Linked DNA regions of Homo sapiens: region 1 is linked to region 2. Evidence: fine-mapped expression QTL. A gene starts in region 2. The other region holds a variant in brackets. All regions are shown on one strand. Distances are between the middles of the regions.

Region 1 (11,774 bases), 49 kb before region 2:
GGGATCTGAGGGTTACTGCAGGCAAGACCACATTCCAGAGTCCTCATGTCTAGGACCCACTTCCTATAGTTTGCTTTTATATTTTCTTTTGTTTTGTTGTTTTTTTGAGATGGAGTCTTTCTCTGTCACCCAGGCTGGAGAGCAATGGTACAATCTCGGCTCACTGCAACCTCTGCCTCCTGGGCTCCAGTGATTCTCCTGACTCAGCCTCCTGAGTGGCTGGGATTATAGGTGCCCACCAGCATGCTTGGCTGATTTTTGTATTTTTAGTAGAGACAGGGTTTCACCATGTTGGCCAGGCTGGTCTCGGGCTCCTGACATCAAGTGATCAGCCAACCTTGGCCTCCCAGAGTGTTGGGATTACAGGCATGAGCCATCATGCCCAGCCTGCTATTTTCAAGACCAGCCCCTGGGAGTCGCACACAGCTGACACTGAGGCCCCATGGGGGACTGTGTCTAAGTCTCGGCTGTCAAAGGTCCCATACCGGAGACCTGGGCCCCAGAGGTCTGTACAGCCAAGACCCAGTACCTAGAGTTCCCCTACCTCTGAGACTGAGGCCCTGCCATTTGCTGTGTGAGACTGAGATCCTGGAGTCCACGCACCTAAGACCAAGGCAAAGACCAAGGCTCTGGGTCTGTGTTTAAGGTGCACTTTCCATGGTGCCCTTGCTTGAGATTTCACCCTGTTCTTGTATTTTAAGTTTTATAGGAACCTCACCGTCTTCACTTACATAGGCTACGGCTGCTTTCACACCACAGTGGCAGAGTGAGTAGTTGTGATCCAGAAGGTATAGCCTGCAAGCTTAAACACTTACCATCTAGCCCTTTAGAGAAAAGGTGCACTTGACCCCAGTTGAGATCTGTGCCCCAGGGGTCCTTGTGTCTGCGATGCCAGCCCTGAGAGCATCCATGTCTGAGATCCCAGCCCCAGGGTTCTCTGTGTTCAAGACCTGGGCCCCAGGCCAGGTGTGGTGGCTCAGGCCTGTAATCCCAGCACTTTAAGAGGCTGAGGTGGGAGGATAGCTTGAGCCCTGGAGTTTGAGACTAGCCTGGGCAACATAGTAAGACCCCATTTCTACAGAAAGATTAATAAATTAGCCAGGCGTGGTGGTGTGTGCCTGTAGTCCCCCACTACTCGGGAGGCTGAGGCGGGAGGATTGTTTGAGCCCAGGAAATCGAGGCTGCAGTAAGCTACACTACACTCTAGCCTGGGCCACAGAGTGAGACCTTAGCTCAAAAAAAAAAAAAAGATCTAGGTCTCAGGGTCCCCCATGCCTGAGACCTCAGCCCCCTGGACATCTCCACATTTGATAGAAATTGGTCTCCAATTTCTCTAGGTCCTGGAGGCCTCTATGCCCAAGACTAGGGCCCTGGGGTGATCTTCTGGCAAGAGCCCAGTGCCAGGGTCTCAGCAGGATTTGAAATGTTTGAGACCCTAACTAGCTAAGTCTCATGGGCTGGGCTCCCTCAGTGCAAGACTCCATCCCTGAGGGTTGCTGTATTCAAGACAGTAGCCTTCATCGTGTCTCACTGCTGAGGCCCTGTCCTGGGGGGTTTCTGTGTCCGAGACCCTGTTCGTACAGTTACTACATCTGTGACCCCAGCTTGCGGAACCCCTGTGTGGGAGAGGCCAGCCTTCAAACGTCTCCTTCCTCCTGTGTCCATTATCAATGTACCGCCTCTCAGCTTCAAATACACCCACGGAGTTAAGCTTTGTCAACAGAGGGCGCCGGAGAGTCACTGCAGGAGGGAGGGTCTCCGGGTCTGGCTTCTAGCCAGTTTGGTCCTTTCAGCTCTGGCCAGGGTGCGGGGCCACATTCAGCGAGTGCCACTGGCCGCAGCTGGCTTCCCAGTGAGGGGTTCCCTTCTTGCCAAGTCCAGCCTGCAGAAACCTCTGTGCCACCCAGTGGGCTACAGCTGCAGTGAGACTGGACTCAGCCTTGGGGCTGATTCTCCCCTCCTTGAAGAGGAGGGACCAATTTCTCCCTTCCATGAGGCTTTTAACTTAGCCCTAGAGTGGCGGCTACTTCCTGTGTGTGCTTTGGTGGTATTCTTTAGTGCTCTCTTTACCGTTTCTTATTTCTGTTTATTTGTTTGTTTGTAAAGAGACAAGGTCTTGCTGTCTTGCCCACGCTAGAGAGCAGTGGTGCAATCATATAGCTCACTGCAGCCTCGAAATCCTGGGGTCAACTGATCCTCCTACCTCAGCATCCTAAATAGCTGGGACCACAGGCACGCATCACCACACCTGGCTAATTTTCAATTTTTTGTGGAGACAGGGGTCTCGCTATGTTGCCCAGGCTGGTCTCGAACTCCTGGCCTCAAGTGATCCTCCCAAAGTTCTGGGTGTGTGAGCCACGGCACCAGACCCTCTTTACCCTTAATAGTTAATCTCCTATTAATAAGTAAGTGATTCTTTAATTAAACTTTCCTCATTCAAATGGCCATACGCTTTCTGTCTCTCGACTAGATGCTGAGTGATATACCCCCCATTCCTGGGAGTCCCCATTATCCTGCTCATCAGCCCTGAGAGTCTTAGCCCCCACTCCTTGGTGCTGGAGCTCCCATTCTCTTATCCTTAGGGGGAGGAGAGTTCTCTGCTCTTCACCCTAAGAAATGAGCCCTGGGGGTGGCTGTGTCCCAGATTTAGTCTGGGGGATTCCCACATCAGAGACTATACCCCTAGAAATCCTGATCTTCCAGTTAAGAGGGGTCCCCATATCCAATGTCCTGCCTTGGTGAGGTCTCCGTGCGTGAGACTCAGAACTCTGCTCTCTGTCCCTGCCCCTGGGATCCCAATCTCTCCCCTGCCCTTTGGTGCTAGTGTCTGAACCCCAAGCCCGATCCCACACATCAGTGTTCCGCTCATGATGGAACCCTAGGCTGCTGCTCTTGTATTCTAAAGTCTTATAGGAACCTGACCTCTTCACTTACATAGTCTACGGCTGCTTTCATGCCACAGTGGCAGAGTGAGTAGCTGGAACGAGAACCTACAGCCTGCGAGCTTAAACATTTACCATGTAGCACATTAGAGCAAAGGCGCGCCTGTCCCTGCCTTATACCGAGGGTCTCTGACATCCACCCTGAGAAAACTATCTCTGAGGGTCCCCACAGCCTGGATTTTCCCTAAGGGTCCCTACCTCCCAAAGTAGGTGGCCCTGGCCCTGTGAAACCTGGTCTAGGGTTCCCCAGGTCTGCAACCTCAATCATTAGTCCTGTACACCTCCCGCCATGGACACCCCAGTTACACTACCCTCAGCCCCAGAGTCCCCATCCTCCATCCCTAGTCCCATCAGCCCCAGTCCCAGCCCAGCCCAGCCCAGCACCTTTGGTGACGCAGCTCAGGATGCCTCCGGAGGGCTGGCACACCTGCCCCGGCTTGCAGCTGTGTTCCTGGCACACCACGACTTTACCCACATGGCACGTGCACTGCTGCCGACAGTTGTCAATGAGGACTGTCTGCTCCGGCTGTGGGGAGAGAGGGAACGGCCATCAGGGACACCACGGGTGGGAGCCGACTCTCACATCTCTGGCGTTCTGGCACAGAGGGGTTTGGCAGACATCACAGACAAGGGACATCTCTCAGCAGGATGGCCCCTTGTCTGTGAAGCTGAGGCACAGCATGGCTTTGGGGCCATCATTCATTGGTTCATTCACTTTTCTTCATTTACTCATTCATTCCAAAATATCCACTCAACGTCTGCTGTAGGAGAAATGGTGTGACACAGTAACTAAGGGCAGATCGCCTGGGCTTGAAGCCCGTTTCTGCTGTTTCCAAAGTGTGTGACTCTGGGCAGTTACTTCACCTCTTTATGGCTCAGTTTCATGATCTGCAGATTGCAGATGATAGTAGCGCCTGCCTTTGGAAATATAACTGAGTTATATTCAGATAATAACCAAGTTATATTCAGATAATAACCAAGTTATATTCAGACATGTAAAATTTAGATAAAATGAAAAGGGTAGGCCGGGCGCGGTGGCACATGCTTGTAATCCCAGCACTTTGGGAAGCCGAGGCGGGTGGATCACGAGGTCAGAAGATTGAGACCATCCTGGCTAACACGGTGAAACCCCGTCTCTACTAAAAATACAAAAAATTAGTCGGGCGTGGTGGCGGGCGCCTATAGTCCCAGCTACTCGGGAGGCTGAGGCAGGAGAATGGTGTGAACTCGGGAGGCGGAGCTTGCAGTGAGGCAAAACTGCGCCACTGCACTCCAGCCTGAGTGACAGAGCGAGACCCCATCTCAAGGAAAAACAAAAACAAAAACAGAAAAGGGTTTCCTTTAAAACATTCAGATAGGAGAGATACGTGGGGTAGACATCAAACAAGATCGGGAGAATATGGCTTATTTTTGAAGCTAAGTGATGGGTAAGTACATGGACAGTCATTCCACTATTCTCTTAATTTTTGCATGTTTGAACGTTTTCAGAATAAAAAGTTTTTAGATATGTAATGCATATATAAAAATATGCACACATAGCACTTAAAACGGTACCAGATACATAGTAAGCACTATCTACACATTTTCTGTTATTATTAATATTATTTATGTGAGGAGAACAACAGAGAGAGGGTTCCACCCCTAGGAGAGCTCACAGTCCCCAAGGGAGATGGACATTAGACAAACACATGCTCCAGTCAAAGAAAAAGGACCTACGGGGACAGAGTGGGAGAGGGAAGTAGAGGGTGTTAGCAGCTGGTATAACACATGGAAATCTTGTCTTTGTGGTCAGAAAGGCTCCCTTCGTCCAGACCTGGAAGGCAAAGCCACAACTTGACCTGGGGAGTCAGGGGAGGGTTTAAAGCTTCAGAGCCCGTGGTCATATTTAGAAAGATCTTTACCACTGCCACGTGGAGGGTGGACCAGAGGGAGCAGAGGTAGGAGCTGGGAGGGACCCAGGTAGGAGAGGACCAGCTGGACCAAGGGAGGGCCATGGGGACGGGGAAAGGAGTGGGTACAAGAGACACTGAAGAGACTGAGTGGACTAGCTGTGGTGGCTCCCGCCTGTAATGCTCGCACTTTGGGAGGCCAAGGCAGGAGGATCACTTGAAGTCAGGAGTTCGAGAGCAGCCTGGCCAATATGGCAAAACTCCACCTCTACCAAAATACAAAAAAATTAACCGTGTGTGGTGGCACGTGCCTGTACTCCTAGCTACTCGGGAGGCCGAGACAAGAGAATTGCTTCAACCTGGGATGCTGAGGTTGCAGTGAGCTTGAACCCGAGAGGCGGAGGTTGCACTCCAGCCTGGGCAACAGAGCAAGACTATATCTTTAAAAAAAAAAAAAAAAGAGGCTCAGTGGGTCGGGCATGGTGGCTCATGCCATTAATCCCAGCACTTTGGGTGGCCAAGGCGGGACGATGGCTTGAGGCCTGGAGTTCACGACCAGCCTGAGCAACATAGTGAGACGCCCCCATCTCTATGTGTCCACAGGAAAATTAAAAATTCGCTGGGCTTGGTGGTGCGCACCTATAGTCCCAGGTACTTGGGAGGTGAGGTGAAGGATTGCTTGAGCCAAGGAATTTGGGGCTGCAGTGAACTATGATGGTACCACTGCACTCCAGCCTGGGTGACAAGAGTGAGACCCTGACTCTAAAAGAAATAAATAAGAGGCTAAGTAGACAGGCCGTGGGGCTGATGAACAGTGGGAGGGGTGAGACCCCATATTCTGCCCCAGATGACTAGGTTCCTACCTCATAGTAGACACCATTGTGGTAGCAGCCACATTGCTGGATGGGCACGCAGGCTTGGCCGTTGTAGAGGAAGCCGGAGTCACACTGGCAGCCCTCAGCACACCCATCTGGGCACTGCAGAGGGGCACTGAGAGCCGAGCAGCCCAGGGAGCAGGTGTCCGCACAGAGCTCGTAGTGACTGTTCTGAGGGCATTCCATGGCTGCAAGGAGGGGGTGCCGATCAGAGCCCTGGGGAGGGAGGGGCTGCAAAGCCCAGGGTCTACCCCTTCTGTGCCTCAAGCTCTCCCCTCCCTGCCCCTCCGGCTCTCCCTCACTCACGACAGAAAGTTTCATTCCTCCAGGGCTCCACGTGGCCTCCAGCCGCCTGGCAAGCACTCACGTAGGCATGGATGTTGCTGCAGAGAATGCTCAGGTTCCCACCACCCAGGCAGAGATCAAAGATGCAATCTTTCAAGGGACCCTGGGGATCCACCAGCTTGTGGCAGGAGGACAGTGGCCCTGTGGGGCTGGAGAGGAGCCCACAGAACTCCTCCTTCTGATACTTCTTCTCCAGCTCGGGAGGACACTTGTCGCTGGGGATACAGCCCGCGCTCCCCGGCGGGCAGGTGGGCGGCGGCAGGCAGGGAGAGTCGGGCACCACCTCCTCCCAGGAGTTGCCGAACTCATTGGCGTTGCCTGCCTGCGAGCCATTGGGCTTCTGGAAGTCATCCTTGGGGTCGCCGTTGTAGTTCCCACACAGGCCACACATCAGCTGGTAGTAGTTTCCAGGGACGGTGACCCGCACATAGTACACAAGGTCGTAGGCCACACGCAGGCCGAAGTCGGTCTCAATCACAACATCTGAACCATGCTGGGAGGCACGGATCTGGCCGTTGGCCAGCACCA[C/G]GGGCAGCTTCATGTCCACACCGTTCACCTGGGAGGGGAAGAGAGGCAGGCCACGCTTCAGAAAGTATACTTTGAGTGAGGGTGGGACCCTAGTTCAAGCCCATGCCTGATGCTGATCTTTGTGACCTCACCTCTTAGGCCCTCAGTTTCCTATTTATTAAATGGATATAATAACAGGGCCTGATAGTAGATTGAATGGTGGTCCCCAAAAGACATATTCACACAGAATCCCATAGCGTGAGCTTACTCGGAATAAAGTTCTTTGCAGATGTAATCAGGGTAATAATCTCAACATGAGATTATCCTGGATTAAATTGGGCCTTAAATCCAATGACTAGTATCCTTATAAGAGCCAGAAAGAAAAAGGCAAAGAGACACACAGAAAAGGCCACATGAAGATGAAGGCAGGGATTAGAATGGTGTTGTCACAAGCCCAGAGAACCTGGAGTCTGCAGAGCTGGAAAGGGAAAGGAAGATCCCCCAACCAGTGTCTTTGGAGGGGGTGCAGCCCTGCCCACACCTTGATGTTGAACTTCTGGCACCCAGGACTGTGGAACATACATTTCTAGTGTTTTAAGCCACCAAGCTCGTGGTAATTTGTTATGGCAGCCATGGGAAACGAATACAGGTCTCGATGAAGTAACAAGCCTCCAGCTATCCTTTGTTTACCGCTTGCTGCAGCCATTAATAAGCAATGATCGCCCCCGGAGCCACTTGCCCGAGTTCAAACAGTTTCCCCCTTACCCTCTTTGTGACCTTGGGCAAGTGAGTCACCTCTCCCTGTTTCTGTTTCCTCATCTATCAAGTGGGAATAAGGCGTTTGCCCCATGGAACTGTTGTCAGGATCACATAAATTAGTATCTGTAAAGTGCTGAGAAACGTGGCTGGCATAGCATGCATGCTTCAGGAGCATTTGCTGTTATTAGCAGCTATGAGTGGAAGTTTTTCTTCTGAAGAGTAAACAGAACCACAGGTTTTTGCTTTAAAGCATCAGCGAGTGGAAAGTTAGGCTAAATTCTTGGGGAAATGAACTTAAACCTATGAGCTGAGGACCAGTGGTTTCAGTTAAAGATTTACTAGGCTCCAACAAAGCCTGGTAAATCCACCCCTGGACAGGGCACAGTGGCTCATGTCTATAATCCCAGCACTTTGAGAGGCCAAGGCGGGAAGATCACTTGAGCCCAGGAGTTCAAGGTCAGCCTAAGCAATATATCGAGATCCTGTCTCTACAAAATAAAAAAGAAAACAAATTAACTGGGCATGGTGGTGCATGCCTGTACTCCCAGCCACTCAGGAGGCTGAAGTGGTAGGATTGCTTGAGAGCAGGAGTTTGAGGCTGCAGTGAGCTAGGATCACACCACTGCACTCCAGCCTTGGTGATAGAGCAAGACCCTGTCTCTAAAAAATAAATAAATACATCAACCCCTGATTAACATGCTTTCTTACCCTTCCTTATCACAGACAGTGCACACCGGATTCTTTTGGAAATGTGAAGAATCAGAGGAGAAGGCAGGAGAAAGACATGCTCCTGGCTGAGTCTCCTAAAAAGATGGTCAACTGCCACACTTCCCAAGCAGGGCTGGGCGGTGGGTAAGGGCAACTGACTTAGCCTTGCCTCAGTTTCCTCAGCTGTAAACTGCGGGGTAATAAGAGCTCCCACATCTGTAGGGAAGCTGGGGGTTTCAGTAAGAAGCAACTAACAAGAACATCAACAACTCCTGTGTATTTAGGCGCTGTATGTCAGGGGCTATTCTAGGAGCTTGGGAAACATTAGGGAATATATTCAATTAAGTCCTGCATGTCGGCCGGGCACAGTGGCTCATGCCTCTATTCCCAGCACTTTGGGAGGCTGAGGCCGGCAGATCACTGAGCTCAGGAGTTGGAGACCAGACTGGCCAACATGGTGAAACCCGTCCCCACTAAAAATACAAAAATTTCCTGGGCATAGTGTTGCACACCTGTAATCCCAGCTACTCTGGAGGCTGAGGCAGGAGAATCACTTGAACCAGGGAGGCAGAGGTTGCAGTGAGCCGAGATCGCGCCACTGCACTCCAGCCTGGGTGACAAAGCCAGACTCTGTGCCAAAAAAAAAAAAAAAAAAGTCACGCCTGTCCAGTTCGCCAGATTAAGTCAGTAATTGATCAGCACCTTCGCCAATACTGCCACTAGAAAAACAGCTGCGTGTCTGTTTCAGTGGGATCTCAGGGGAAACCCCTCCACTGTAACTCAGATGCCAGTCTCCACATGAGACCAAATCTTCTCAGTAAGAAAAGCACTGCAGAGCAGCACGGGGTTCAAGCTCCACCTTTGCTGGGGGACTATGGGCCAGTGATGGGCCATCCCACTCTGAAAAATAAAGCAAGTCATAGTGCCTGCAGTCCCTGTTGCAAGCATACAGACACCATGGACGTGAAGTGCCTGGCAGCCAAAAGGTGTGCAGTCAGCTGTATAGAAACTATAGCTGCTGTTGTTGTTGTTAAGGCGGTGAGAGTGTCACCCACAGATTGTCCTCTGTCCATGAAGCTTCTCAAACTCGGACTTTCTCAACCTCTGATGGCACCACGTCCTGCCAATAAGTGGCAGACTAGGGAGGTGAGTAGGGCAGAATCCAGGACTGAGGTGGAGAGAGGATGGAGTGGGAGGGAGGAGAGGGTGGGAGAAATTTGGAGAGAAAAGTCAATGCATGGAGGTAAAGAGAGGGTGGAGACTGAGGGACAGAGATGGGGGAGCAGCTCCCAAGTCCCTGATGACACCTCCCTCATTGGCTTCCCACTCGGTTCTGACTGGCATCTTCTGTCCTCAGAGACCCCAGGCCTCGCACATGCACTCTCATCTCTTGTGCCCCCAACTCCTGGGCTGAGCGCTGCCTGTGCCCCACCTACCCACAGGCCCCTCGCCCCCTGCTCCCCATCTGCTCTCACCGTGACCTTCCACTGTCTCTGCTCCAGCCGCAGGGTGAAGTTTGCCACCTGGACCGTGATCACCCTGGTCACACTGACTCGCCCATTACCCCAGGCCACGTTCTCCTGCAGGACGGCAAACCGATGCAGGCCAGGCCGGGTGCCGCAGGTCTGAGCCAGCACATACACGCAGGTGCCCATGAAGTCGAAGCGGTGGCCATCGAAGGTGGTGTAGTGGGGATCTCCCGACGCCTGGCAGGTGGTAGAGCCCACGGCCACGCAGCCCAAGCTGCCACCGGATGGCCGGCAGGTCTCATGCGGGCCGCAGCTGGAGGGCTCACAGGACACCTCACCGCCCTCCCGGCAGCGGCAAAGGGAATCACACCCAGGGCCAGGGTAGAAGGTCTGGCCCAGTGGGTAGTAGCGGTCATCGTGGAGGCAGCCACACTGGCCCACAGGTACACACGTGTCACCACTGAGCACGAAGCCAGCATCGCAGACACAGCCTTCACGGCAGGCCGACTCACAGCCCTCGGGTGCCGACAGGCTCGGGCAGCTCCCAGGACAGGAGTCACCGCAGAGCTCGTAGTGGCTGTGGGCAGGGCACTGGAAGGCTGTGGGGACAAGGTGGGCATCAGCCAGGTAGGTGTTTGAGTCGCAGTCTTGGGAGGCCCTGAGTGGGAAAACTGCTCAGGCCAACTTGGGCGTCTCTGGGCATGCACATGTGATCCAGGACATCTAACTGGGGGACTCAGCGTGGGACCTGGAATGGGAGGGGACATGCCCAGGTCTCTCTGACCAAATATTTCTGAAGATCAAATGACTCTGCTTGGCTGATATTTTTTTTTTTTTTTTTTTTGAGACAGGCTCTCACTCTATCTCACCCAGGCTGGAGTGCAGAGGCGCAATCACAGCTCGCTGCAGCCTCCACCTAAACCTCAAGCAATCCTCTGGCCTCAGCCTCCCGATTAGCTGGGACTACAGGAGTAAGCCACCACATCTGGCTGATTTATTATTATTTTCTGTAGAGATGGGGTCTCACTATGTAAGCCAGGCTTACCTGGGTGAAATGGATCACTTATATCTATTCGGGGTATGCAGGATCAGAACTGACTATGGGCATCTCAGCGTGTGAATGTGACTGGGGTGTGGGGCCACATGTATCTCAGGGTATGGCTCTGCCTGAGGGCACCCAGCTGTGGGTGTCTGACATGCAGCATCTCCCAGAGTCCTTCTGACATGGTCTGCCTAAGGCTGTGCCTGGGTGAAGTTGGCAGGATACCTGTGACCAGGAGACCTGCCTGAAGGGAACCGCCTAGGACTATCTAACTATGCATCTGTGTGGATCTGCCCAAGGCTATGCCAGGATCCTGTTTCTTTCTGAGTGTATCTGACCAGTCAGTATAAAATTTAAGCAGATATCACTGAAGGTATGCGACTAATTCCATGTGACTAGGTGTATTTCAGTGTGTGCAACAGACCTGGGCCCTCTGACCAGCTGAAACTCACTAGGTCTTCCTAACAAGGGGTACTTTGCTATGTGACAGAGGCAGGGTCAGCCATCCCAATCTACATGCCTTGGATACCTGAAAGCATGGATCACCAATCCCTAAGAGTGTCCTGGACCCCAGGTTTCTTTTCTTTCTTTTTTTTTTTCTGTTGTTTGTTGTTTGTTTGTTTTTTGTTTTGGAGATGGAATCTCTGTCACCCAGGCTGAAGGGCAGTGGCACGATCTCGGCTCACTGCAACCTCTGCCTCCTGGGTTCAAGTGATTCTCCTGCCTCAGCCTCCTGAGTAGCTGAGATTACAGGTGCCCGCCACCACGCCCGGATAATTTTTGTAGTTTTAGTAGAGGTGGGGTTTCACCATGTTGGCCGGGCTAGTCTCGACCTCCTGACCTCAGGTGATCCGCCCGCCTCGGCCTCCCAAATTGCTGGGATTACAGGCGTGAGCCACCGCGCCCACACTCTGACTAGGTGTTTCTAACTGACTCTCTCTCACTGCAGTACCTGACTTGGGGCATTTCAGTGTGTCAGTGCCAAGGTGTTTCCTGACAGTAGATACCGAGCTCGGGAAGGAAAGTGGCCCCTGAGCCCCATGGAGGAGGAAGGGGCTGCTGTCCTACAGTCCTGGGAAGGGCAGGGAGAGACCCAACCATGTGGACCATGCATGGAGCAGTACTCACGACAGAAGTCCGGCCGCCTCCACTCGCGGAGCTGGGCCCCAGCGGCCTGACAGGCTGCCACGTAGGTGGCCACTGCAGGACAGAGGCCTCCAGGATGGCCCTGAACTTGG
Region 2 (11,774 bases):
AACCCAGGAGGTGGAGGTTGCAGTGAGCCAAGATCACACCACCACACTCCAGCCTGGATGACAGAGCAAGACTCTGTCTCAAAAAAAAAAACAACTTTGGCTGGGTGCAGTGGCTCAAGCCTGTAATCCCACCACTTTGGGAGGCTGAGCTGCACAGATGAAGAGGTCAAGAGATTGAGACCATCCTGACCAACGTGGTAAAACCTGTCTCTATTAAAAATACAAAAAAATAATTAGCCTGGCATGGTGGCAGACACCTGTAATCCCAGCTACTCGGGAGGTTGAGGCAGGAGAATCGCTTGAACCTGGGAGGCAGAGATGGTAGTGAGCTGAGATGGCACCGAGCTGAGATGGCACCATTGCACTCCAGCCTGGGCAACGAGAGCAAAACTCCATCTCAAAAAACAAAAAACAAAAAACAAAACAAAAAAAACAGAAAACCTAAAGACTTCATCAAGAAGCTATTAGAACTGATAAACAAATTCACTAAACTTGCAGGATACAAAATCAACATACAAAAATCAGTAGCATTTCTATATGCTTACAGCAAACAATCTGAAAAAAAAAAAGGAAAGTAATCCCATTTACAATAGCCACAAATAAAATAAAACACCTAGGAATAAACGAAAGAAATGAAAGATCTCTACAATGAAAACTATAAAACAGTAATGAAAGAAATGGAGGAGGACACACACCAAAAAAAATGGAAAGATATTCCATGTTCATGGATTGGAAGACACAATATTGTTAAAATGTCCATACTAACCAAAGCAATCTACCGATTCAATGCAATCTCTATAAAAATACCAGTGACATTCTTCACAGAAATAGAAGACTAATCCCAAAATTTGTGTGGAAACACAAAATACCCAGAATAGCTAACGCCATCCTGAGCATAAAGAACAAAACTGGAGGAATCACATTACCTGACTTCACATTATACTACAAAACTATAATAACCAAAACAGTGTGGTACTGGCATAAAAACAAACACATGGACCAGTGGAACAGAACATAGAACCCAGAAACAAATCCACCCACCTACAGTGAATTCATTTTTGACAAAGATCCCAAGAACATACATTGCATTTATTGAAGATAAATGGTACTGGGAAAACTGGATATCCATATGCAAAGAGTGAAACTAGACCCCTATCTCTCACCACATACAAAAATCAAATCAGAATGGATTAAAGACTTAAATCTAAGACCTCAGACTACGAAACTACTACAAGAAGACATTTGGGAAACTCTCCAGTTCATTAGTCTGGGCAAAAATTTATTAAGTAATACATCAAAAGCACAGGCAACCAAAGAAAAATGGACAAATGGGATCACATCAACCTAAAAAGCTTCTGCTCAGCAAAGGAAACAATCCACAAAGTGAAGACACAACTGACAGAATAAGAGAAAATATATACAACCCATCTTAGCTAAAGCAATTAGACAAGAGAAAGAAATAAAGGCATCCAAACTGGAAAAAAAAAAAAAAGAAGTCAAATTATCCTTGTTTGCAGATGATATAATCTGATATTTAAAAAAAACCTAAAGACGCCATCAAAAAGCTATTAGAACTGATAAACAAATTCACTAAATTTGCAGGATACAAAATCAACATACAAAAATCAGTAGCATTTCTAGATGGTACTGACAAGGGATTAATAACCAGAATATAAAAGGAGCTCAAACAACTCAATAGGAAAAAAATCAAATAATCTGATTTGTGTGTGTGTGTGTGTGTGTGTGTGTGTGTATGTGTGTGTGTTTGAGATGGGGTCTTACTCTGTCACCCCAGGCCGGACTGCAGTGGCACGATCTCAGCTAACTGCAACCTCCGCCTCCTGGGTTCAAGTGATTCTCTTGCCTCAGCCTTCCAAGTAGCTGGGATTACAGGCATGCGCCACCATGCTCGGCTAATTTTTGTACTTTTAGTAGAGACAGGGTTTCCCCATGCTGGCCAGGTTGGTCTCGAACTCCTGACCTCAAGTGATCCGCCTGCCTCGGCCTCCCAAAGTGCTGGGATTAGAGACGTGAGCCACCACGCCCGGATTAATCTGATTTTAAAATGGGCAAAAGATCTGAATAGACATTTCTCAAAGAAGACATACACATGGCCAGCAGGTATATCAAAAAATGCTCAACATCACTAATCATCAGAGAAACACAAATTAAAACCACAGTGAGATATCATCTCACTCGAGTTAAAATGGCTTTTATCCTAATGAAAGGCAGTAATGAATGCTGCTGAGCATGTGGAGAAAAGGGAACCCTGTTACCCTGTTGGTGGGAATGTAAATCAGTACAATCACTATCGATAATAATATGAAGGTTTCTCAGAAAACTAAAACTAGAACTACTGTATGATCCAGCAATTCCTTTCCTTCCAAGTCAGGAAGTCAGTATATGTAAGAGACATCTGCTCTCCCATGTTTATTGCAGCACTATTCCTAATAGCCAAGATACGGAATCAACCTAAGTGTCCATCAACAGATGAGTGGATAAAGGAAATTTGGTACATACAAACAATGGAGAATTATCCACCATAAAAAAGAATGAGATCACCCGGCACAGTGGCTCACACCTATAATCCCAGCACTTTGGGAGGCCAAGGCAGGTGGATCACTTGAGGTCAGGAGTTCAAGACGAGCCTGGCCAACATGGTGAAACCCTGTCTCTACCAAAACTACAAAAATTAGCCAGGAATGGTGGCATGTACCTGTAATCCCAGCTACTCGGGAGGCTGAGGCACGAGAATCACTTGAACCTGGGAGGCGGAGGTTGCAGTGAGCCAAGATCGCGCCACTGTACTCCAGCCTGGGCAACAGAGTGAGACTCGGTCTCAAAAAAAAAAAAAAAAAAGGAATGAGATCCTGTCATTTGCAACAACATGGATGGAACTGGAGGACATGATGTTAAGTGAAATAAGCCAGTATAGAAAGACAAATTTCACATGTTCTCACTCATAGATGGGAATTTAAAATTTTTAACTGATGAACTCATAGAAATAGAGAGTAAAATGATGGTTACGATGATTACCACAGGCTGGAAAGTGTAGCGGGGACTGGGGGATAAGTAGATATGGTTAATGGGTACAAAAATACAGTTAAACAGTTAGATAAAATAGATAAAATCTAGTATTTGGTAGCAGAACAGGATGACTATTGTTGACGATAATTTATGGTATATTTTAAAATAACTGAGAGTGGAATTGGAATGTTCCTAACACAAAGAAATGACAAATGCTTGAAGTGAGGGATGCCCTAGTTACCCTGATTTTATCATTACACACTGTATGCCTGTATCAAAATATCACAGGTACCCCATAAATGCAAACCCATAAAAATTAAAAATTTTAAAAATATATAAACTAGTAAAAAAAAAAAAAGTGGATTGTTGGTACTAGCTTTCACCTGTTATAATGAAAGAATGTGAGCTTTTTTAAATTGTAAGACCTTCCTGTTTTTCTTTTTTTTTTTCTTCTGAGATGGAGTCTCGCTCTGTCACCCAGGCTGGAGTGCAGTGGCACGATCTCGGCTCACCACAACCTCTGCCTCTCAGGTTCGAGTGATTCTACCACCTCAGCCTCCCGAGTACTGGGACTACAGGTGTGCGCCACCAGGCACAGTTAACTTTTGTATTTTTTCTTTTTTTTCTTTTGAAATGGAGTCTCACTCTGTTACCCAGGCTGGAGTGCAGTGGCGCGATCCTGGGTCACTGCAACCTCTGCCTCCCGGTTTCCACGCCCAGCTAATTTCTGTATTTTTAGTAGAGATGGGGTTTCACCCTGTTGGCCAGGCTGGTCTCAAATTCCTGACCTCAGGTGATCCACCTGCCTCGGTCTCCCAAAGTGCTGGGATTACAGGCGTAAGCCACCACGCCTGGCCGTTCTTTCTGTTTTTAAAGAGAATGTGGCTATCTGAATTTTCATGTGAAATCTCCAACCCACAATTGTTTTAAGCACTTTGGGGCTCAAGGTGGATGTACTCTGCTGCCAGTGTATGATTTCCATCTTTTTACAAACTGGAGTGCAGTGGCTTAAACACAACACACTGCAGCCTCAACCTCCTGGGCTCAAGGGATCCTCCTGTCTCAGCTTCTGGTATAGCTGGGACCACAGGCACGCACTGTGTGCCTGGCTCATTTTTTAATTTTTTTCTAGAGGCAGGGTCTCACTTTGTTGCCCAAGCTGGTCTTGAACTCCTGGGCTCAAGTGATCCTCCTGCATCAGCCTCCCGAAGTGCTGGGATTACAGACGTGACCAACTGTACCCAGCTGGTTTTTGTCTTAATAGGACTTGTGGGGGCCAGGCGCGGTGGCTCTTGCCTGTAATCCCAGCACTTTGGGAAGCCAACGCGGGTGGATCACTTGAGGTCGGGAGTTCATGAGCAGACTGACCAACGTGGTGAAATTCCATCTCTACTAAAAATGCAAAATTAGCCGGACATGGTGGCATGGGGCGCCTGTAATCCCAGCTACTAGGGAGGCTGAGGCAGGAGAATCGCTTGAACCCAGGAGGTGGAGGTTGCAATTAGCTGAGATCACACCATTGCACTCCAGTCTAGGCAACAAGAGTGAAACTCCATCTCAAATAATAATAATAATAATAATAATAATAATAATAATAATGGGACTTGGGGGTTTGTGAAAAGGGGATAAAGAGAAGAAGGGGATTATGGAAGGGTGAATGAATTGTCTCCTAGAAATAGATGGCAGTGGGGGCTTCTGACCACCCCCAACTAGGAAGAGCGTCCCTGGGGCTGAGGAGAGAGAGGTCTAAGGAATCTTGAAGAGAGTGTGGGGGCTATGGAATGACCACCTTCCATATAAAGGGGGCTTTGAAGGATATCCCAGGGGGCCAGGGGATCAGGAACAATGGACATTTCAAAAGTAACCTAGATGGATGCTGACTGGTGACGAGAGGGTCCTCATATCCCATCCTCCCCCCAGTACTTTGGCTTTATCCAAAATTTTAGTTCTGGACACATCCCTGGGAGAAGTGGGGACAACACCCTCCAAGAATGACTTTCGTGAAATTTTCCATCAACTTAGCAGAATGAGGCTCAGAGTCAAAACCTTAGTTGAGTTGCAGAAAACCAAGAAAGTTCTTGCACACTTGAGTTTGGGGACTAAGGTTTTTGCCTGTGCTCCCATCCAGAAAAGGGTGAGAATTGGTGAATTCTACCACATCCCCCTGCAGAGCCTAAGGGCCTCTCTCCTGTCTCAGCTAGCCTGGGGTGACATGTGGAGGAGGCACACATGGAAGGCGTGGACCCACGCAGAGTTCCCCAGATTGGAACAAGGACATGGAGAGGGTCTTGGTCTGACTTACCCCACAGGAGGGTTGCTCCAGCCCAGAGTATCCACCAGCTCCATAGGGCACCCATGGCTGCAGTAGGAAAAGAGAAAGGATCATAGAAGGCTGATCCACCGCCTCTGCTGGAGACTGTCCTGGGCAGAAGGGCCCACTCTCATGACAAGGGCCACCTGGGACCATGAAGGCTGAGGTGGGGAAAGAAGTCGGGCAGATTGGGCCAGGGGGTATGGATCCAAGGACCAGTGTGTGTGTATAGGGGAGGCTGGCTGTCCAGCGGGTCTGGAGGTGGGTTGGGGAGGGCAGAAGCCAGGGACGGGGTGGAGAGTTGGCTGTCTTGTGGGTCTAGGGGTAGGATGAGGAGGCCTACAGTCAGGGGCAAGAGTAGGGGACCTGCTGTCCCACTTCCAAAGGGGACCCCAGCCCTTCTCACCTGCAGGTCCCTGGAGCTGCAGGGCCAGCCCTGTGGCAGGGCTATATAGTGGAGTTTCTGGGCCACACCCTGGGCCACGTGCCAGGCAGATGATGCCAACTTCCTGGAGGAGGCTGCCATCCTCATGGCCAGATGAAATGGGAAACTGTGAAGGCCTGGGAAGGAGGGACAGTGATTCTGGATGCCTGGGTTCCAAGAAGGGAGTGAGGACAGCTGGTGGCCATTCCCTGGAAGCCTTCTGGAGAGTTTGGTCCTGGAAGGGTGGGGTCCCTGAGGGAGACAGCTGGGGAGCAGGCAGATGAGCACCTGGGTCCCTGGGTGGAGGTGGGGTAGGGTGGGGGTGTGGGCAGTGAGGGTGGGAGGTGGCATGTGGTCATATTTGCTGGCTTAGTGGCTAGGTTCCTTCCTTTGGCTCCTGCCAGGAACAACAGTGAGGGACCCATATCCGGGTCCTGGTTCCTTCTCAGTCCCCACAGGCTGGGGAGTCCCTAGCCACCCACATCCTGCTTCCAGACACCACTAGGGGCAGGTGTCTGGGATGGGCAGGAGTCTGAGGCTATGGAGTGGGACACAAGACCTCCACCGCAGCCCAGTGGGGCGTCTGCGGTTTCTCATCTGCAAAATGGGAACACCAAAACCAGCCTCTCTGGGCATCTTTACGTCCCAGAGATGTAAAAAAATTCTCAAGGACTGTAGAGCTGGGGGGCAGCCTCCTCTGGTGTGGGCGCAGGCCAGGCTGCAGGTGGGCACTGGGACTGAGGCGGTGTGTGAAGAAGGGACAATGGCCTCTGTTTCCTGGTTCCACACAGACACCCAGATTCTACTTCTGATCCCAGACACCTGCTCCTCAGTGGTGCTGGAAACAGGATATAGGTGGCCAGGGACTCCCCAGCCTGTGAGGACTGAGGAAGAGCCAGGACCTGTTGGTTTTGGAGTTTTTTTGTGTGTAGGGAGGGTTTGCTCTTAGCAGGGGCTAGCTGAACAGGTTTAGGGGACTCTGTGCCTCTCCATCACCCCAGAATTTGCCTGAGATGGGAGGTGGAGGTCTAGGTTGCACACAAGGAGCAGAAGAATGAGCTGAAAGTTGGGCTTTCTCAGCTGGAGTCAGCTCCTCTGAGGGGCTGGCCTGACCCATGCCCTGCCTGCCTTCTCCCTGACTCAGGATCTCATTGTTTGCTGGGGGAGTCTCCCCTGGGACCAGCAGCTGCAAAGCCTGGGTGCTCTCTTGGACCAACACCCTAGCAGCTGCTGCCCCTGGGGCTCCTCCTCTCTTATCACAGCAGCCTGGGCCTCTGGGAGGCCAGAGCGGGTGGGGGGCTTCTCTCTCCCTGGAGCTCCAACCAATCCCCACGCCCACCCAAGAAACGTTCCTGGAGGGAAAGATAAAGGCTAAGAGTTGACTGGGACATAAAGTCAACCAGGAGAATGAGGTGAGTAAATAGGAGACTGGCTAAAAGCCAGAGATAACAAGAAACAAGCAGGGGCAGGGGACCCACAGGAAGTGGAAGCTTTGGGAAAAGGATGCCTGGGTCCCTGAGGGGTCTAAAAGTTGGTGGAAGGGGCTGCTGGGTCCCTGAGACAGAGAAGGACTCGGAGGAGGAGACGTCGGGATTCCTAGGAGGAAACAGCAATTGCAAACCAAGATGTGAAAATTCTCTGTCTGAGGCCAGGCGCAGTGGCTCAGCTTATAATTCCAGCATTTTGGGAGGCTGAGGCAGGAGGATTGCTTAAGGCCATGAGTTTGAGACCAGCCTGGTTCAAGACCAACATAGTGAGACCCTGTATCTACAAAAAAATACAAAAATTAGCCAGGCACGGTGGTGCACGCTTGTAGTCCCAGCTACTTGGGAGGCTGAGGCAGGAGGATCACTTGAGGCCACAAGGTCAAGACCAGCCTGGGCAACATAGTGAGACCCTTTCTCTACAAAAAATATAAAAATAAACCGAGTGTGGTGGCATGCACCTGTAGTCTCCACCATTCAGGAGGCTAAGGTGGGAGGATTGCTTGATCCTAGGAGTCTGAGGCTGCAGCGAGCCGTGATCATGCCACTGCATTCTGGCCTGGGGAGAAAAAGAAAAAAGAAAATAAAATCCTCTGTGTGCCATATGCCTCTTGTAATTAGAGGCACTCAGAGACAAATGGGAGGTGAAGGGAAAGAATCAGGGTGAGTTTCATGGGTGTTTCTGGCCCTCAATTCTCTCTAAGCCTTGGGGTTTCCCCTGGTTGATCACAGAAAGAAGCTTCCTGCCTTCAAAATTCATCATCGCTCTCCACAGCCAGAGTCCCCAGAAATGGGGTGGTTGTGGTGGGAGATCTCACAAATTAATACTCTGTATGTGCCAATCCCCTTGGGTCTTCTTTCTCACTCCTTTTAAGGCCCAAGTGGTGTGTGTGTGGGTGTGTGTGTGGGTGTGTGTGTGTGTGTGTGTGTATGTGTGTGTGTACACCCCTGTGCTTTACCCTGTATTATATCAATTCTCAGGAAACCCTTTGGTGACCCGGGAAATAAACTCTGGGGACACTTCCTTATGGTCAGAGAAATCGCATCCATCCCTCCACTGGCAGCCTTGCTCTGAGCCCAAACAAGGGTATTTGTGTACCTGAGCCTTTCGGCCTCTTCCTGCTTATCTGCTTCCGTCTCCTTGCAGCATGGGCACTGGCTATACCATCCCAGACCCCTGGGCCCCTCTGACTAGTCTTGGCTTTATAGACTGGAGCACAGTGGAAGAGAATTTACTCTCTCCAGCTAAATTCAGGCTTGCGGGCAATTTCTAACTTAATTCCTTTACGCTCTGGATCCCACAATCCGACTTCCATAAGCACTGAACGTTTTGTTAAACTCTCCAATGACCCATTATTTGCCACTTGCCTCTAGTTCCTTCCCTCTAACATTTGACATTCACACTTCCTCTCTGCCTATAATAATTGAAATTCTATAGGAGATGTTCTCTGACCATAATGGAATCAGCTTGAAATGAATAACAGAAAAACAGGAAAATCTCCACTCACAAGGATATTGAGCAACTCACTTCTAAATAATCCATGGGCCAAAGAGGAAGTATCAAAAATACATAGAATTAAATGAAAATGAAAAGAAGATATTTCAAAATATGTGGGATATAGCTAAAGGGAAATTTATGGCATTAAATATTTACATTAGGAAAGAGGAAAGTTCTTAAACCAATATTCTAAGCTCTTCTTACACAATAAAGTAGTAAAAGACCAAAACAAACACAACGCAGAAGAAAGGAAATAATGAAGAGCAGAAATTAATAAAACTGAACATGAGAAAATCAATGAAACGAAAGAACTACTTCTTTGTTGTTGTTGTTGTTGCTAACAAGAGCAAGTCTTTGAATTTCCCAAATGTATTTGTGGATTTGTCTATTGTTGAATAGAGCATTCTATAAATATCAATTAGATCCTGTTGATTGATGCTGTTATTCAGTTCTTTGATATTCTCACATATTTTATCCTGGTAGTTCTATCAATTTGGTGAGACTGACGTTTTTAATTCTCCAACTATATTTGTGGACTTGTCTATTTCACCTTTCAGCTCTATCAGTTTTTGCTTCATGTACTTGAATCTCTGTTGTTTGGTACATATACCTTAGGATTGCAATGTCTTGGCAGAATGATCCTTTGTTTTTAGCAATGTTTTTCGCTCTGAAGGAAAGTATTTTCGTATTAATATAGTACTTCCTTCCTTTTAAAAATTTATATTTAAAATTATATATATATTTATTTATTTATTTATCTATTTATTTTTTAGACAGAGTCTCGCTCTGTTGCCCAAGCTGGAGTGCAAGGGCATGATCTCGGCTCACTGCAGCCTCTGCCTCCCAGGTTCACGCAATTCTCCTGCTTCAGCCTCCCAAGTAGCTGGGATTACAGGCACCTGTGACCACGCCTGGCTAATTTTTGTATTTTTGGTAGATACGGGGTTTCACCATGTTGACCAGGCTGGTCTTGAACTCCTGACCTCAAGTGATCTATCTGCCTTGGCCTCCCAAAGTGCTGGGATTACAGGGGTGAGCCACTGCACCCAGCCTAAAATTTATATTTATAATAACATAAATTAATAAAATTAATATATATTTCTATTCTTTTATTTTCAACCTACCTATGTTGTTATATTTGGAGTAAAGTTTTTTGGAGACAGTATCTAGTTGGATCATTTTTTAAATCCACTCTACCAATCTCTGGCCTTTTATTTCATGTAAGGAGATAGACTATTTACATTTAAAGTAGTTATTGATATGTTTGGACTTAAGATTAACATTTTAATATTCATTTTCCATTTGTTCCATTTCTCATTCTTATTTTTTCTTGCATTCCTGTGAGTTACATGAGCATTTTTTAGCATTCCATTTTGATTCATATTATTTTCGAATACATAATTTGTAGAATTTTCTTAGCACTTGCTCTAGTACTACAATATACATATGTAACTGATTATAATCCAACTTATGAATATTTTACCACTTTGATTGAAGTGTTGAAACTTTACATCCATATAGATCCTTTTACCCTCCCACTTATACATATGCGTGTGTGTGTATACACATATAACTATTTTAAGTATTGTCTCTTCCTATAGACATCAGATAATACTATAATTTTTGCTTCAACCAACTACGATTTTTAAAAACTCATGAGAAGGGTAATCTGCTATAGTTATCACTATTTTTGTCCATTCTGCTGTTCTTCCTTCCTTTCTAAAGTTCTGAGCCTTTTCCTGTAATCATTTGGACTTTGGAGAACTTCCTTTAATCATTCTCTAAAAATAATTCTGCTGACGGCAAAGTCTTGTAGTCTTCCTTCATCTAAAAGCTTTTTATTTCTTCTTCATACCCCGTAGATAGTTTTGCTGCATATAAGATTCTCGGCTGGGCACAGTGGCTCACGCCTGTAATCCCAGCACTTTGGGGTGCTGAGGCGGGCAGATCACAAGGTCAGGAGTTCCAGACCAGCCTGGCCAACATGGTGAAACCCTGTCTCTAATAAAAGTACAAAAATTAGCCGGGCATGGTGGCGGGCGCCTGTAGTCCCAGCTACTTGGGAGGCTGAGGCAGGAGAATCACTGGGAGGTGGAGGTTGCAGTGAGCCAAAAGCACACCACTGCATTCCAGCCTGGAGGACAGAGCGAGACTGTCTCAAAAAAAAAAAAAAAAAGATTCTCAGCAGATAGTTATTTTCTTTCAGCACTTGAAGAGTATTGCTCCAGGCTTTCTTCTCCATGGTTTTTGATAAGAAATTTTTTGTCATTTGATCAGTGTTCCCTATAGACAATTTATAATTCCTCTCTAGCTGCTTCCAAGATAGTTTCATTGTTTGCCTTTGTTTTCATAAGTTAGTTATACTGTGTTTTGGCATGGAATCCGTCAGATTTATTCTGTTTAGCTTCTTGCATCTGTAGGTTTATGTCTTTTGCCAAATTTGGGAAGGTTTGGTCATTATTCTTCAAATATTTTTCAGCCCCACTTTCTTTTCTCCTTCTGTTAATCTGATAATACAAATGTTAGCTATTTTATAATTGTCCTGCAGGTTCTCTGAGCCCTTGTTAGTCATTTTCTGTTTCTCTTTTTTAAAGTTGATTGTCTCTCTGTTTTTTGGATTGGGTAATTTTTATTGTTCTATCTTCAAGTTCACTTCTTATTTCCTTTGTCATAGTTGCTCTGCTCTTGAGCCTTTCCAGTGAGTTTTTATTTTAGTTATTGTATTTTTCAGTTTTATCATTTTCATTTGATTCTTTAAGAACATACTTTCCATTTCTTTGGTGAGATTTTCTTTTCTTTCCCATCTTTGCAAGGAATTTCTACTTGCTTGGTGAAACATTTTTATGATGGCTACTTTAGATCTTTGTCAGATAATTCTAAAATCTTTCATCTCAGTGTTAGATTGTTGATTGGCTTTTCTCATTCAAGTTGTGATTTTTCTGGTTGTTCATATTATGTATGATTTTTAAATTATATCCTGGACATTTCTGGTATTATGAGAGGAGACCCTGGATCCTATTTAACTCTTCC

Evidence for each region. PIP is the estimated chance that this variant, and not a neighbour inherited with it, causes the effect.
Region 1: its variant is fine-mapped to the expression of FCGBP in iPS cells (PhLiPS, PIP 0.95).

What each region holds. Positions count from the first base shown.
Region 1 is chr19:39,879,979-39,891,752 of GRCh38, forward strand. FCGBP (Fc gamma binding protein) reads right to left here. Exons shown (of 36, transcript NM_003890.3): 22 at 11,665-11,774; 23 at 9,501-10,093; 24 at 6,013-6,607; 25 at 5,695-5,894; 26 at 3,327-3,468. Among named protein-coding and RNA genes, the nearest start is that of FBL, 39 kb to the left of the region's middle. RefSeq lists an enhancer at 5,739-6,240. The variant C/G (reference allele first, on the strand shown) is at 6,580.
Region 2 is chr19:39,929,235-39,941,008 of GRCh38, forward strand. It overlaps FCGBP (Fc gamma binding protein), which reads right to left and starts at 5,400. Exons shown (of 36, transcript NM_003890.3): 1 at 5,330-5,400. The coding sequence starts at 5,384.